Homo sapiens: one gene and its partners. The protein of the gene in region 3 purifies or fractionates together with the protein of the main gene of each other region. This does not show direct contact. Each region holds a gene or a part of one and is shown on either strand. Other genes may lie near its edges.

Evidence for each region. Proteins that work in one complex are often made in the same cells at the same time.
Region 1: the proteins of CSNK1E (region 3) and RASAL2 purify together in Homo sapiens (affinity purification with mass spectrometry; 3 studies listed by BioGRID and IntAct, with this or other methods). This does not show direct contact.
Region 2: the proteins of CSNK1E (region 3) and FAM110C purify together in Homo sapiens (affinity purification with mass spectrometry; 3 studies listed by BioGRID and IntAct, with this or other methods). This does not show direct contact.
Region 4: the proteins of CSNK1E (region 3) and PCMT1 purify together in Homo sapiens (affinity purification with mass spectrometry; 3 studies listed by BioGRID and IntAct, with this or other methods). This does not show direct contact.

What each region holds. Positions count from the first base shown.
Region 1 is NC_000001.11:178,475,104-178,479,350, reverse strand, and holds the end of RASAL2 (ras GTPase-activating protein nGAP), read right to left. Parts: 3' UTR 501-4,247; downstream 1-500. UniProt on the Homo sapiens protein: Inhibitory regulator of the Ras-cyclic AMP pathway.
Region 2 is NC_000002.12:40,910-43,505, reverse strand, and holds part of FAM110C (protein FAM110C), read left to right. Parts: intron 1-440; coding exon of another isoform or gene 441-547; exon of another isoform or gene 548-697; intron 698-1,200; exon of another isoform or gene 1,201-1,388; intron 1,389-1,878; coding exon 1,879-1,898; 3' UTR 1,899-2,596. UniProt on the Homo sapiens protein: May play a role in microtubule organization. May play a role in cell spreading and cell migration of epithelial cells; the function may involve the AKT1 signaling pathway.
Region 3 is NC_000022.11:38,310,934-38,314,433, forward strand, and holds part of CSNK1E (casein kinase I), read right to left. Parts: intron 3,237-3,500; 5' UTR 3,225-3,236; coding exon 3,149-3,224; intron 1-3,148. Other genes in the region: TPTEP2-CSNK1E (casein kinase I), read right to left, coding at 3,149-3,224.
Region 4 is NC_000006.12:149,801,741-149,805,240, reverse strand, and holds part of PCMT1 (protein-L-isoaspartate(D-aspartate) O-methyltransferase), read right to left. Parts: intron 3,042-3,500; coding exon 2,862-3,041; 3' UTR 2,825-2,861; exon of another isoform or gene 2,710-2,824; intron 2,117-2,709; exon of another isoform or gene 1,448-2,116; intron 1-1,447. UniProt on the Homo sapiens protein: Initiates the repair of damaged proteins by catalyzing methyl esterification of L-isoaspartyl and D-aspartyl residues produced by spontaneous isomerization and racemization of L-aspartyl and L-asparaginyl residues in aging peptides and proteins.

The sequences.
Region 1 (4,247 bases), on a different chromosome or scaffold from region 3:
GAAACAGGGATGCAGGAGAAGATGGGTGTATTTGGGAACAATCATGTTGGGAATGACAAATGAACTTCTATTAAGAAATTAAAATAAAAAACCTGAACCAAACATCAAAAATCCTGAAAACAAACCCCATTAATCTAACTGGAAAATTACAAGAGGATGGTAGTGGTCTAGGAAGCTAAGTGGGGCTACATTTCCTAATAAACCAGATGAAACTTTCTTTACCTGTCACAAGTTATTAAAGAGATTTCAAATTCTGCAGAATTCGAAAGTAACAGTTTTATCACAATACATGCTAATGCTAGTTATTTTTCCTAAATTGAAATCTTATTACATGGAAGTTGGGAAATTCTAGGACAGACTGTTCTTAATGTTAAAATATATTTTTAGAAGAATATTCCGGCATACATTTCCTTTCTTGTTTCTCTTCAAGTGTCCTAGTCACCCAGGTGCATGCTAGAAGACAGCAATATGTCAAATATAGTAGCAACTTTAGTCTGAAATGTTTAAAGTTAAAGTTTATTTGTATTCTTTGTAGGAATATCAATAAAAGACCTCAAACGTATCTATATCTGTACATGTACAAGAACTGTCAAAAATTATTCACAGAACAAAAATAAATCTTCTTTAGAACAAACCCAGGTAATGAAATGCTGATACGGATCTCACATACGGAATAATCTAAATGCTACTAGCACAAAAATATGGCTTTAAAAATAAAATAAAATCTTGGGTTTTGTTTTTCTAAGGTGTATTTCTCTTTCTTGAAATAAAAAATAAATTATTTAGAGCTATCATTGTAAAATAGTCGTGTGTTAACACACTCTTATTAAGGCCCTGGAGATGAAAAACAAAATCAAATTTAGAAGGTCATTTCCTCACAGGTGTAACTCAGGTTAATGTGCTGCTGTCTGCTTAAGTTAATATAACTAGGAAATGTCTAAGCACCAGTCAAAATTTAACCTAATTTACTATTTAACTTTCCTGAAGGTGGTCATTGAGTCAATTAGTATTTAACCTTTTGTTGAACTGGGAATTGAAATGTTTCCCTCGAAAATTTGGAAATCACATAAAATGATATTTACACATAAATATCTGTACCCCCACAAAGATGATGGAGGTCCCTAAAACACAACTTCTGTGGAAATCTCTCTACAACAACAAATAAATCTGGTTTTAAGTCTCAAACTAAAAAAAAAAACAAAAAACTTCCTAGGGTCAAATGAGGGTATTTAAGTGGAAGATAGCAACTGAGTAGGAAAGGAAAATGCATGCTGAAATGCAGGCAAAGACTACCACTTTCCTTTCCTCGGGTGCTCACTGCATTTCCCAAGTCTTGCTGTGTTGGTTACTCAAACACTTGAGGCTTAACTGATCAGGAACTGAAACTACTTATTTCTGGATCCTACTCTCAGATCAATGATATTCAACTTTATTTCTATGATTCCCCATGGTATCAATAATGATATCTAGGGTTCTTGAGACAATGCCAAACCAAGTCAATTTCAAGTTGCTTTAACTTATATATACATATAACACATATAGTACATTTTTTAGGATGATAGAATGTCATAAAATCTAACAGACGAGAGCATAAAATCTGAAAATCTCAAAGTTTGGGAATCACTGCTCGATAAAATGGATTAACATTCAGAAAAAGGAAGCCCCAGGAATTATGTTTTGTGTGGGTGTGTGCATGTGTTGTCTACAGAGACTGCCTTTTTATGTATCTATGTATTTTAAGAGTGGGCAAGGGATATAAATATTCCTGTTTCCTGGAAACTCTGGGCTACTGAGAAGACTGCTTATGCATTCATTCCCTTAGGGTCGTGTCTCTTCCTCAGGTTCTTTCACTCCTCCTAAGATATTTATTCTATCTCATGCAAATTTCATCACTTTTGTCCTTCCTAAACCCAAGAGTATACATAATCGGGTCATGACAAAGAGAATGCTTCTAGAACTAATAACAATCATTCAAACATGAAAAGAGATTCTATTTAAAAATTCAACACTCCAACATTTCTTGCTTTTAAGAAACTAAATCCTTCAACTGACGCATTGAAAAAACAAAGTATCTCAAATTATCGGCCCCCAGGTAAGGGGTAGGAAGGCAACTATTTACTGCTGGGGTAAGCAGGAGATTTCACTATTAGACTTGAAAAAGGGAAGGAGAATGGAGAAGGGAGCCCTTCTGGCTTTCCACAGTTGATAGGAGAAGGTGGCCTCCAAAGGTGTAGCTGAAAATGCAGTGAAGCTATGGCATGTGGCTGTTGGGTTTGGCCCTGTGACAAGTCTAGTCTGGTGTCAAGCGTGTGTGTTGGGCTCAATGTCACAATGGGGTAGACTGATGGGACTGAGGTAATCCTGAAGAGGGTTCCTTTCCCACGCTCAGTCCTATAACCAGCCTTCTCAGGAACTCCAAGCTAGAGGTAACTAAAACTAACCCTCTATGGAAGGGGAAACAAATACGAATGCAAACTCACTTGATGGCAGTTATTTTGCTCTGGGACTTCCAAAGAAGAACTCTGCTCTCAATCTGGTGTACCTCTGAGAACACAGTGAAAGCCAGGGGTCTACAGAACCACAGACCCATCAACAAAGGCCCCGGGTAGACTAAGATCTGAAAAGCTTTACTTCCAAAGTCAAGCTCATTCTTAAGGGCATATAGTTAACACTTGTAGCAGTCTTAGGTAATCTTCTTTTTCTTTCATAATCTTAACACCATCACAGAGAAACACGGAAGCAGACCAGTCAGAGAAAGCTAATTCTGACCAACTTGATACTATATGAAAAAAAGCAAAAAGCTATAGCAGCATGATTACCTCATTTTACCACATTTTTCTTACCGTTAGACTGCCATAAACCCCAACAGTACCTTGGTGATAGTGCTTGGAACATGGTAAGTGCTCAAGTGCTTGTTATAGTTACCTAGTTATAATCTCCCCTCTGACATGGCTTTTGCTGCAGAGACTCAGGGAATATGATGACCTGATGGAAATGTGACTCTTTTTGCTGCTTCAGCTCAGATTGCTTATTGCTTCAGTAATATAAAAGGGGAATATGAAGCTCTTTTCTGACTCCTACCAACACTGTCCTCATTAATGGTCAAGTCTGTTGTCAGCTAGACATGCACTTTACAAGCACTTCACCTGAATTCCAAATTCCACTCAACCCTGATCTATCCTGCGCCCCACAATGTGGTGTTGTTTTGAGGGAAACAGGAAGTGCAAGACATTGCTATCTTAATCTATTTGCCTCTCTTCAGCCATGTACCTCCTCCCAGCAAACAAAGTTATTTACCTACTTGAACTGAGGGAAAGCCAATTAAGAAACATCTCCATAAAAATTATCACCTGTTGGTGGCTTCTCTTCTTAAAAAATCCTTCAGAGTAACTTATACAGATTGCAGCATTCTCTAAAGAAATACTGAGAAAAAAGGTTGGACAGGAGTAGGCTCACAGGATAACTTAACATTTAACATCTATCAGCAACTCTGAACTTTTAGCTTATTGGTAATGCTCTATTATTATTATTTTTTACTATTTCTTCTTCATTCAAGATAACCTGGTAGTAGAAGGCTGCATAATCTGTCCAAATGTTTTGGGCATTAAATCTTTCAGTGAAGACAGCCCTCTAAGGAGCTCCCATAATGCTAATAAGATACACTCTATCCATCAAAAGCACATTTGATTTTTTGGGGCTTCTCTCAATTCCCAATATAAGTAATTTTATCAGCCCTCTGTAATCCATAATCGGCACTTAAGAGCTTCCAAACCTCAATGGCAAGACATCACCCACATTACATACTTATGGCCAATGAAACTGACAATTCTCTTACCAGGTTTTCTGTGGCACAATTGAAGGCTTTTACAAAGAATGAATTAAACATGGCTTGAGCTGAGAATAGCCAGAAACAAGAACAAATCTATGCTTACATCCCTCCTCCTTCAACAAAGGACACTACACTTTGGAACAGTTACCTCTTTTTCCTAATAAAATAAGTGATTTTGACCACAGTGTGCCCTCCGCTTGGAGAGAAGGTGTAAGAATTTGCAAACCAAAACCAAAGGTGAAGAAAACGTAAAAGTGCCAAAACAGCTGGATATAAAGTGTGCAGATCAGATAAACACAGTGAGAAACTCCCATTTTAGATCTGTCTGGCAGAAACAGGGATTGCTATGAAAGAAACTGTTTTAAAAGGTTGTGGGTTATGTGGCCATGGTGAGGTTGCTGAAACGTAAGGTCCAACA
Region 2 (2,596 bases), on a different chromosome or scaffold from region 3:
TGAGAACTTTCACTTTTATGACAAAGAGAAATAGTTGAAGGAAGAGGGAAAGTGAGAGCAGGTTTGGGAAGGCACTAAGGATGGAGGCAGGAAAAAGGCTCATGGGCTTCTTCCTCCCCTCATGTCTCCCTCCACCTGAATCCCGTTTGTTCCAGACTGGAGACAATGGCAACTGTCTTCTGAGAAGTTTCACATTATTTCTCAGAGCAGGGGTACAGTCCCACAGAAGCTACCCCAGTTTTTATATGGAATTGGCAGTCACCAGCACTATAAAGATTTTCTTTACTAATGTACTTCCCTAGACCCAAAACAGCACAGGCCTCTTTGAAACTGCAATGCAGAGACTTACTGCCCGGCTACCAGGGGTGGGGTGTATGAGGAGAACAGAGTTGCCTGGGCTTTCTCCAGATCACCGGAACAGTGTCTGCTCATGACCTTAGCCCCTTCACAGCTCCCCACCTCCCAGCACTGGTGTTCCCACTGGAGGAGACCAGCAGGGAAAGCCACGACAGAGTGTGAACACCTGGTCAGTGGGGCGGTCCTCTGACTTCCTGCAGAAGTCCCTTGTTCTGAGACCAGTTCTGCAACTTCTGGAAGATGTGGAAGCAGGAATTTAAGCTGTGCTTTTTCTGCTGAAATTTATAAGGATTCATTTTAGGATTTCTTGAAAGATTCAGAAAACTTGAGACGAACAAAGGTAGGTTTTCTAAGTGAAAGAGAAAACAAATATATTTGGAGGTTTTTGTCCTCTTGGTAGATAGAGATTTACAACTTATAATAAAAGTGTCTCAATTATAATAGAACTAAATACGTTTATAAGTTTCTTGCCCCATGGGGTAAAGATAATTGCTTTTCAAAACTGAGACTATCACAACTGGGCAATGACTCGTATAATCCGCACACAAGTCCTCTGGGGAACCCATGAGCAGTAGTTGGTTGTACATGGGTAATTTTGGTATTCTGTTTCCCAGAGCTTAGTTTATGAAAATATCTCTTTTATCTGCTGTGATGTAGTCATCTTCCTGTCTTTCAATTCATCAAACTAGGGACTTGTCAAAATTTAGATCTTTCTGGTTTTCTGTTTTGCGTAGAATATATAAGTTGCTGCTTTTAATACTGGCATAAATAACTTGTCCTTTGGGAAATTAGGCATAAAACATTGCTTAATTTCAAGGCAAAAATGTTCGGACAATTCCACAGCTATCTTCACATTTATCCTTGACACAAAGAAAAAAGAAATACCTGTAGAAGCGCATCGAAAGCTCCTGGAACAGAGTTGTGTCTCATATTTGCAAAGATGCAGAAAAAATAAACCCGGGACATCCAGCTTTCTTTTCCTTTCTTCTTTGACTATTCTGAGAAGCTATGCGACTAGGAGCACATTTTAGGTAAACACGTGGCTTGAGTAGCCATAAGGCCACTCTTCCCTGTCGTGTGACCCGCGCCTGGGCCTTTAAGAGATATTGGTGTTTGAAAAGGGAGGAATCTGTTTGCCCTCAGATATTTAGTTCAACTGCCTGCATTGCTTCCTATTTTGTTGTCCAACTCTGTAGTAGTTAGCACTGGCCTTACCAACATGTAAAGAAATTTTCTTTACTGCCCCATGAGTAGTTGGAGGCAAAGAGAAATTTTTAAAGCGCAGAAAAAGGCCTGCAGGGAGATGGAATTTGTTCTGCCAGAGAAACGAGATGATAGCTGTATTTAATAAAGTTACTGACCTCTTGTCAAAATTTAAAACGCAAAAGAAGATGTTTCAAAATGCAGAGAATGTCAGAAAACAAAAACTACAGGGACCAGACCAGTATAATGTTTAGTTTTCATTATACTAACTTTTGTCTAGACTGGAGTTGATTCACTATTTTTTCTTTAACTCCTCAGGAAGCAAACCTTCCCGATGATGAAGACTTCTTGAAGGATTTCATGGGTGATTTGGGATCCCAGGACCATTTGGCTAGTGTGCCTAGGTGACCACATGATTGCTGTTTTACCAGGAATGCAGCATCCCATTGACAAAACAAGTGCTCTGAGAAGGTTTAAAATACTACAGAGAATATGGGAACACAGACCTTGAAATTTAGCTGAGTTGTAACAGCTGAAACTCCAAGAGGTGTCTTCCTTGTTTGAGGTGAAACTAGTGTTGCTTCCAGAGGGCAGCTGGAAACCGTAAAGCTGTTTGGAAATCTTTTTGACTGACTTGCTGACAAAGAGGTACTGTGATGCATTTTAACAATATCTAAGTTGATTTTTTTTTAAATCAAGGAAAATAAAAACCAAGCATGAATGCTATGGTATGTGCCCCTTTTGACCATCCTGGGCTGATTAACATCATTTAAATCAAAGTAATCATAAAAAGGCATATTCTACTTCAATTATGTGGTCAAATAAGAGTAAACACACACACTCACACATGCTGACCCCAATTGCCAGAGCATTACTGCACTATAAATTACGGTTAATTCCCAAATTATACTACTGTTTATCTTATTTAACAAGTCAGAAAGCACTTTTAAAATAACTTGAGGGCTACAAGGTCATTCTATTAATGTCATTCTCCATTCGGGTTGTAGGCATGTGGAAGTACCCATTAAAAGATAAG
Region 3 (3,500 bases):
TACAATCACCACTGTCCCCAAACCAACAAGACAGGGGCCCAGGAGGGTGCTGGCAGGATGGTGAGTCAGGGCAGGGTCCCCTGAGGCCCTTGCACCAGTGAAGATGGGAGAGTCAGGAGTCTGACTCGCCTCCCCAGACTCAGACCCAGAGGACCCAGACCCTTCGAAATCAACTCCGAACTAGAAACTAAGACCAATGGTGGGGGCGCAGCGCACAGCACTACTGCTGGGCCCAGCACACGTGGGTATTTTACACGCCACGACCTCATTACTTTGCACGACCCCATTTTGCAGATGGGGAAGCCAAGGATGGACAAGGTCATCACCTGCTCAAGCGCATACAGCTCACAAAAGGAAGAACCAGCACCCAAACCTAGGTCGAATTTACTCTAGAGCCAGTACAAAGAGGAGTAAATCTGTACTTAGTTTTTAAAATGAATGAGATGACTATGCAGATAAACAGGAAGTCCTGTCCCCAGGGAGGTCCCACCACACAAGATTCTGGATTTTCTGAGTGATCTTGGGCTGTCCCCGCTCCAGCCATGGGCCTGTCTCCTGTCTGCAAAAAGAGCGACGGGACCTGGGATGGGCGCTGTCTAGGAACAAGTCTGTGCCAAGAGCTGTCTCCATGCCCTTTGACCTCCAGCCAGTGGCTCCAGACTTCAGTGCTCAGCCCAACAGCTTCAATAATACGAGGGTCCTTTACACCCACTCCAATTTCACAAACAGTAAGGAGCTGGGTACACTCATTTCAGATGAGAAGACTGAGGCTCAGAATGATATGGTGACTTACTCCAGGTCACACAGCAAATGAGGAACACGCTGGGGATCTGAACCTGGACTGGCCCCCACATCTCAGCCCTTTTCTTTCCTTCTTTTTTTTTTTTTTTTGATGGAGTCTTGCTTTGTCGCCCAGGCTGGAGTGCAATGACACGATCTCAGCTCACTGCAACCTCCACCTCCCAGATTCAAGCCATTCTTCCGCCTCAGCCTCCAGAGTACCTGGGATACAGGCATGTGCCACCACACCCAGCTAATTTTTGTATCTTTAGTAGAGACAGCGTTTCACCATGTTGGCCAGGCTGGTCTCGAACTCCTGACCTCAAGTGATCTGCCCGCCTCGGCCTCCCAAAGTGCTGGGATTACAGGTGTGAGCCATATCTCCTGGCCTCCTTTTTTTTGAGACATGGTCTCACTCTGACACCCACGCTGGAGTGTGATCTCAGCTCACTGTAGCCTCAACCTCCATGGCTCAGGTGATTCTCCCACCTCAGCCTCCTGAGTAGCTGAGATTACAGGCGCGTGCCGCCATGCCCAGCTACTTTTTATATTTTTCTTGTAGAGATGGGGTCTCACCATGTTGCCCAAGTTGGTTTCGAACTCCTGGACTCCAGCAATCTGTCTGTCTTGGCTTCCCAAAGTGCTGGCGTTACAGGTGTGAGCCACCGCACCTGGCCATCCCGGCATTTTTCTATTCTGCTGTGAGGCTACTGTGCATGTCTGTGCATGTCACAATCCCCATTTTCTCATTGGTTTGCTTGACTAGCCTTCAGTGAACACCCACTGCGCTGGGCACTAGCAGATATTACCAAATGCCTGCCTCCCCGGGAGTAGCTTGGGGTCGCAGAGAAAAACCTTTAAACCAGCTGCACCACACACTCTCCCTCCCTCTGAGCTCCAGGGTGTCCATAGGGGAGGCTCATCTACTAAGCACTCAGCAATGAACTGCACATCTGGCTGGCACTTTAGAGTTTACAAAATACTTTCCCATCTGTCATTTCATCTCTGCCTTGGAACAGTTCTTGGTCAGTCAGGCAGCATTATCACAAACTACAGATGGGGACACTGAGGCACAGAGGAGCTGCATGACCTTCCCACAGCCACACAAAGCCACGTCTAGAACGCAGAGCTAGACGTCTAACGTCTCCCTCGGCATGTTCTGTCTTCCACGCTCTCACTCATGTGGAGGGCTGTGGGCATACAGGCTGCTTCTGCCAGTTTTCTAGAGCGGTCTTGGGAGGCCAACTTGACCATCTGTGCCTCAGTTTCCTGATGTGCCAAACAAATAATCTGGTACTATCTCTAGGGGCTGCAGAAAGTACCCTGCAAGGAAGTGGTCAGGGAACTCCCAGTCTCCGTCCCCGTCTCCATTGAGGCTTCCTTAGCACATTTCATACTCCAAGGAACCCTAACCATGGGGTAACAGAAACCCCGAAGTTCTGAGCTGATGGACACGACACACAGACTTGGTGTTCTCTGCACTGGACAGAGCTGATTTTCATTTTCCAAGGAGGGTAACCAAGGCACAGAGGTGTGTCTAGCCTGCTTCTGAGGGTGCAGGGACAGGAATGAGGATAACTCGTAGAAGGGCTGGCCACCTCACTCCAGCAACTTCAAGCCTCCACCCGCTAATCCACAAGCACCAACACTAAATACCTTCCCTTTGGACCAATAAGCACAAAGGAAGGGCCAAGACTCATGACCGTGCCCCTCAGAAGTGGCACTGAAAGGCGCAAGCCTCATTTCTCCCAGGCCAAGGGGAGGACTGAGAGGTCAGTGATTTGTTTAAAATGCAACATCACAGCATACTCATACTTTCAACAGGAAGCACATCCGGAGAGAAAAAGAGAGAGAGAGAACTCCCTAATGAGGAGACCGCATCCCCCCACCCCACCCCCGAGGTTACAGGGGAGCCTGCGTCATCCCAAAGCCTGCCTGGGCTGGGTTCCAGGAGGCCAGGACATAGAGAGGGGGGCCTGGCTAGGGGTCCAGCAGCAACCCAAGTCCCTTCTATCTACCAATATCCTTCTCCCAGGAAGCAGGGGAGAGGATGTGAACCCCGCCTGGGTTTTCCCACACCCAGCTGGTGACCCAGCTGACCCGGGACACTGAGGCACAAAAGAACCGCATGACTCCTGCAGAAACTGGAGCTAAAAATACCCTCCAGTGCCCAGCCTGGCCTGCGAGAGGAGCCCCCTGGCCTGCCTCCCGGCAACCTGCTGCTTCCTTCCCCATCTGGGATGGCCCTGGGGCAAATCATGCCCCTGGAGCCACATTCTGACTTCAGATCCCCAAATCCTGGGGTCTTTCCTCCTCTTGGTCCCATGGGCTGGCCCCAGGGGCTCCAGCTGGAGCTAGGAACACTTACCCAGGTAGATATCTCCGAAGGACCCGCTCCCGATCTTCCGTCCCAGGCGGTACTTGTTCCCCACACGTAGCTCCATGGCTCACTCTTGCTGCAGAGGAAGCAGGAACATGAGGGTCAGCGACGTGGGGAGCCGGGAAAGGGGTCCAGTCCACCAAGGCCAGGCAGAGCCACCAGGAACTCGAAAACCTGCATTCTCGAAGACCACATTCTGCAGGTGTCAGGTGGCCCACAGCCTGCACTCCACACACCTGGGGAACAGCTAAGGCAGGCTGAGGACAGGTTTCAGTGTGGCCAGAGAGGAAGCAGCCAAGCAAGCATGTCTTTGGGGGATGCTCATTCAGGGGCCCCTCAA
Region 4 (3,500 bases), on a different chromosome or scaffold from region 3:
ATTTTTTAAAGATAAGGTCTTGCTCTGTTGCCCAGCCTGGAATGCTGTGGTGATCACAGCTCACTGCCGCTTCTGGGCTTAAGTGATCCTCTTATCTCAGCCTCCCAAGTAGCCAGAACTAGAGGTGCACACCACTACGCCTGGCTAGTTCTTAAATTTTTAGTAGATACGAGGTCTCACTATGTTTCCCAGGCTTCTCTTGAACTTCTGGCCTCAAGTGATCCTCCCACCTCAACCTCCCAAAGCATTGGGATTACAGGCATAAGCCACCATACCTGGCCCTATTTTAAATTTCTTAATACAAATAGTTTGGTTTTATCAAAGGTGGATTCAGGTTTTGTGGGGGCCTAAGGTTTATATAATTAGAAAACAGGGGAACCTTTTTATGAAGTTAAAAAAAAAATCAGTAAGACTATGCATAATATAAAATTAAGAACAGGGCCAGGCATGGTGGCTGACACCTGTAATCCTAGCACTTTGGGAGGCCGAGGCGGGCAGATCACCTGAGGTCAGGAGTTCGAGACCAGCCTGGCCAACATGGTGAAACCCCTTCTCTACTAAAAATACAAAATTTAGCTGGGCGCCTATACTCTCAGCTACTTGGGAAGCTGAGGCAGGAGAATTGCTTGAACCTGGGAGACGGAGGTTGTAGTGAGCTGAGATTGCACCACTGCTCTACACAGCCTGGGTAACAGAGCAGGACTCCGTCTCAAAAAAAACACTTTTTTAAATTAAATTAAATTAAGAACAGGGTCAGAGAAAACCTAGACAAGCAAGGGCTCTGCAGCTTCAGCTTTGTTAGCTTCACAGTAAATCTACCTCTAGTCATAAAAACAAAATTCCCTTTTTATAATTCCTTCATAATTATAAATTATAAATTATAGGCAAGATGTTCAACACTAATATTTATTGTATATAAAAAGAAAAATTTCTAAGTTGCTAATGAAAATCAACTCTTCTTATCAAATTTCAGTAATTTCAGTAACATATTTGCCCCTTTTATACTACAATAATCTCACAATTATGTAATTGTATAAACCATACTAGAAGCAAAGTGAAGGAAGGTTTTAGTTAGTTGTTAATAACTACATCTGATTCCAGTTGAAAAAACCAGTAATTTTTTAAATGCCTTTTTAATTTTTTTTTTTTTTTTTTTTTTTGAGACAGAGTCTCGCTCTGTCACCCAGGCTAGAAGGCAGTAGTGTGATCTCGACTCACTGCAACCTCTGCCTCCTGGGTTCAAACAATTCTCCTGCCTCAGCCTCCTGAGTGCCTGGGACTACAGATGCAAGCCAACATGCCCAGCTAATTTTTGTGTTTTTAGTAGAGACAGGGTTTCACCATGTTGGCCAGGCTGGTCTCAAACTCCTGACTTAAGATGATTGGCTCACCTCAGCCTCCCAAAATGCCTGGACTAAAATGCTTTTTTTTTTTTTTTTTTTTCCAGTGGCTGTGCTCCACGTATAATTCACAGAAAATAGCTATTGGTGAAGAATAAAAACAACATTGAGAGATCTATTAAACTTATTATCACCCCTTTTACTTATTAAGAAACTAATTATTTTAAAATAAGAATCTTTATGTCAAATAAAAATAAGATGCTAAGACAAGGAAACTGTAAAGCCGTTCTTGTTTTGGCATTTAATTTCAAGTAATTTGAGCTAATGGCACTGTTATGTACTGATGTCACTCTCTCTCATGGAAGGGAGTGGGAAGGGGAGGAAAAGAGAAATCTTGGCTTCAAACAAAATATTCAGATTATGCTGAGACATAAAACAAAAGTGGACATTCTTTATAAACCATGCTGTGCTGAAAGTTGCTGCATGCTGCTGACCCTCTGGGTGGGTTTGTGAGACCTGGGCACTCATTGGGTAACTTGTAGAATCCTTGCCTCTTCCTAGGAATTTAGCCAGAATAGCTTAAACAGTGGCTGGCCTATTCTATAGAATGGGGAGAAGGTGACTCTTAAACAAGGCTGAATGAAAAATAGGCATGGGCTGTCAGGTATCTATGATTTGGTTGAAACAGATAAACCAAGCTGAGAGGTAGAATGTCCTCTCTGGTATTCTGACATTTTAGAAAACTGAGACGACCGTTATCTTTCCCCTTCTTTCTCCTTGTTGGTACAATAAACAGGGCAGGAAATGATGGCCCCTTGTTTTTTTTTTTTTTTTTTTTTTTTTTTTTTGAGACAGAGCCTTGCTCTGTCTCCCAGGCTGGAGTGCAGTGTCAAAATCTCGGCCCACTGCAACCTCCGCCTCCAGGGTTTAAGCAATTCTCCTGGCTCAGCCTCCCGAGTAGCTGGGATTACAGGCCTGTGCCATCACGCCCAGCTGATTTTGTATTTTTAATAGAGACGGGGTTTCACCATGTTGGCCAGGCTAGTCTCAAACTCCTGACCTCAAGTGATCCGCCCACCTAGGCCTCCCAAAGTGCTGGGATTACAGGCATGAGCCACTCCGCCTGGCCTCTTTTACAGACCAAACTCATTGTTTCCATGCCCATCCAGTGCTATAAAAATAATTTAAAAACATAAAAACAGAGTGGCTGATAATGAAGAAAAAATCCTTACAAAGTACTGAATTGAAGCTGAAAGTCTCTCTAAAAAAAAAACAAACAAACAAACAAAAAAAGCCTTTGTGCCAACCAAGTCTCACCCTCCCTTTCCCAAAGATATATATGTTAAACCAAAATAAGGGCAGACCATGCAACATTTTTCACATTTTTAATGTAATGAATTTCTGACGTTATAATGGAGGAGCATAAAGGTGACAACCAAAAACAGCTCTTGTAGTCTAATGTCTTAAAATCCACACCCTTTCACCTTGCATGTGTGGAAGAAGAAAGAGCAGAAGATAAAATCACTTCCACCTGGACCACTGCTTTTCTTTATCTGTTAAAGGCACGTATATCACCCCCATCAGAGGCTTCATTTTGATGCTGCCATCTTGTAGCTTGTCATACTGCTCCAACATTTGGTTTCCGCCTGCAGGACCAACAGGCAATATCAATCTTCCTCCGGGCTTTAACTGATCTATTAGCTAAAAGAAAAAAAAAAAAGCACATACATCACCAAGTTACAGATTTTATTTTATTTTATTTATTTATTTTTGAGACAGGGTCTCACTCTGTCGCCCAGGCTGGAGTGCAATGACACGATCTCAGCTCACTGCAACCTCTGCCTCCCAGGTTCAAGTGATTCTCCTGCCTCAGTCTCCCAAGTAGCTGGGACTACAGGCACACGCCACCATGCCCAGCTAATTTTTGTATTTTTAGTAGAGACAAGGTTTCACCATATTGGCCACACTGGTCTCGAACTCCTAACCTCAAGTACTCCACCCACCTCGGCTTCCCAAAGTGCTTGGATTACAGGCGTGAGCTACTGTGCCCGGCCCAGATTTTATATTAATAGTCATTTGACATCATTATAAACAACTTTTAGTGTCCATAGGCAGAAAGCAGAAACGTTCTTTATTTAGTATATACAAATTAAGGCCAGA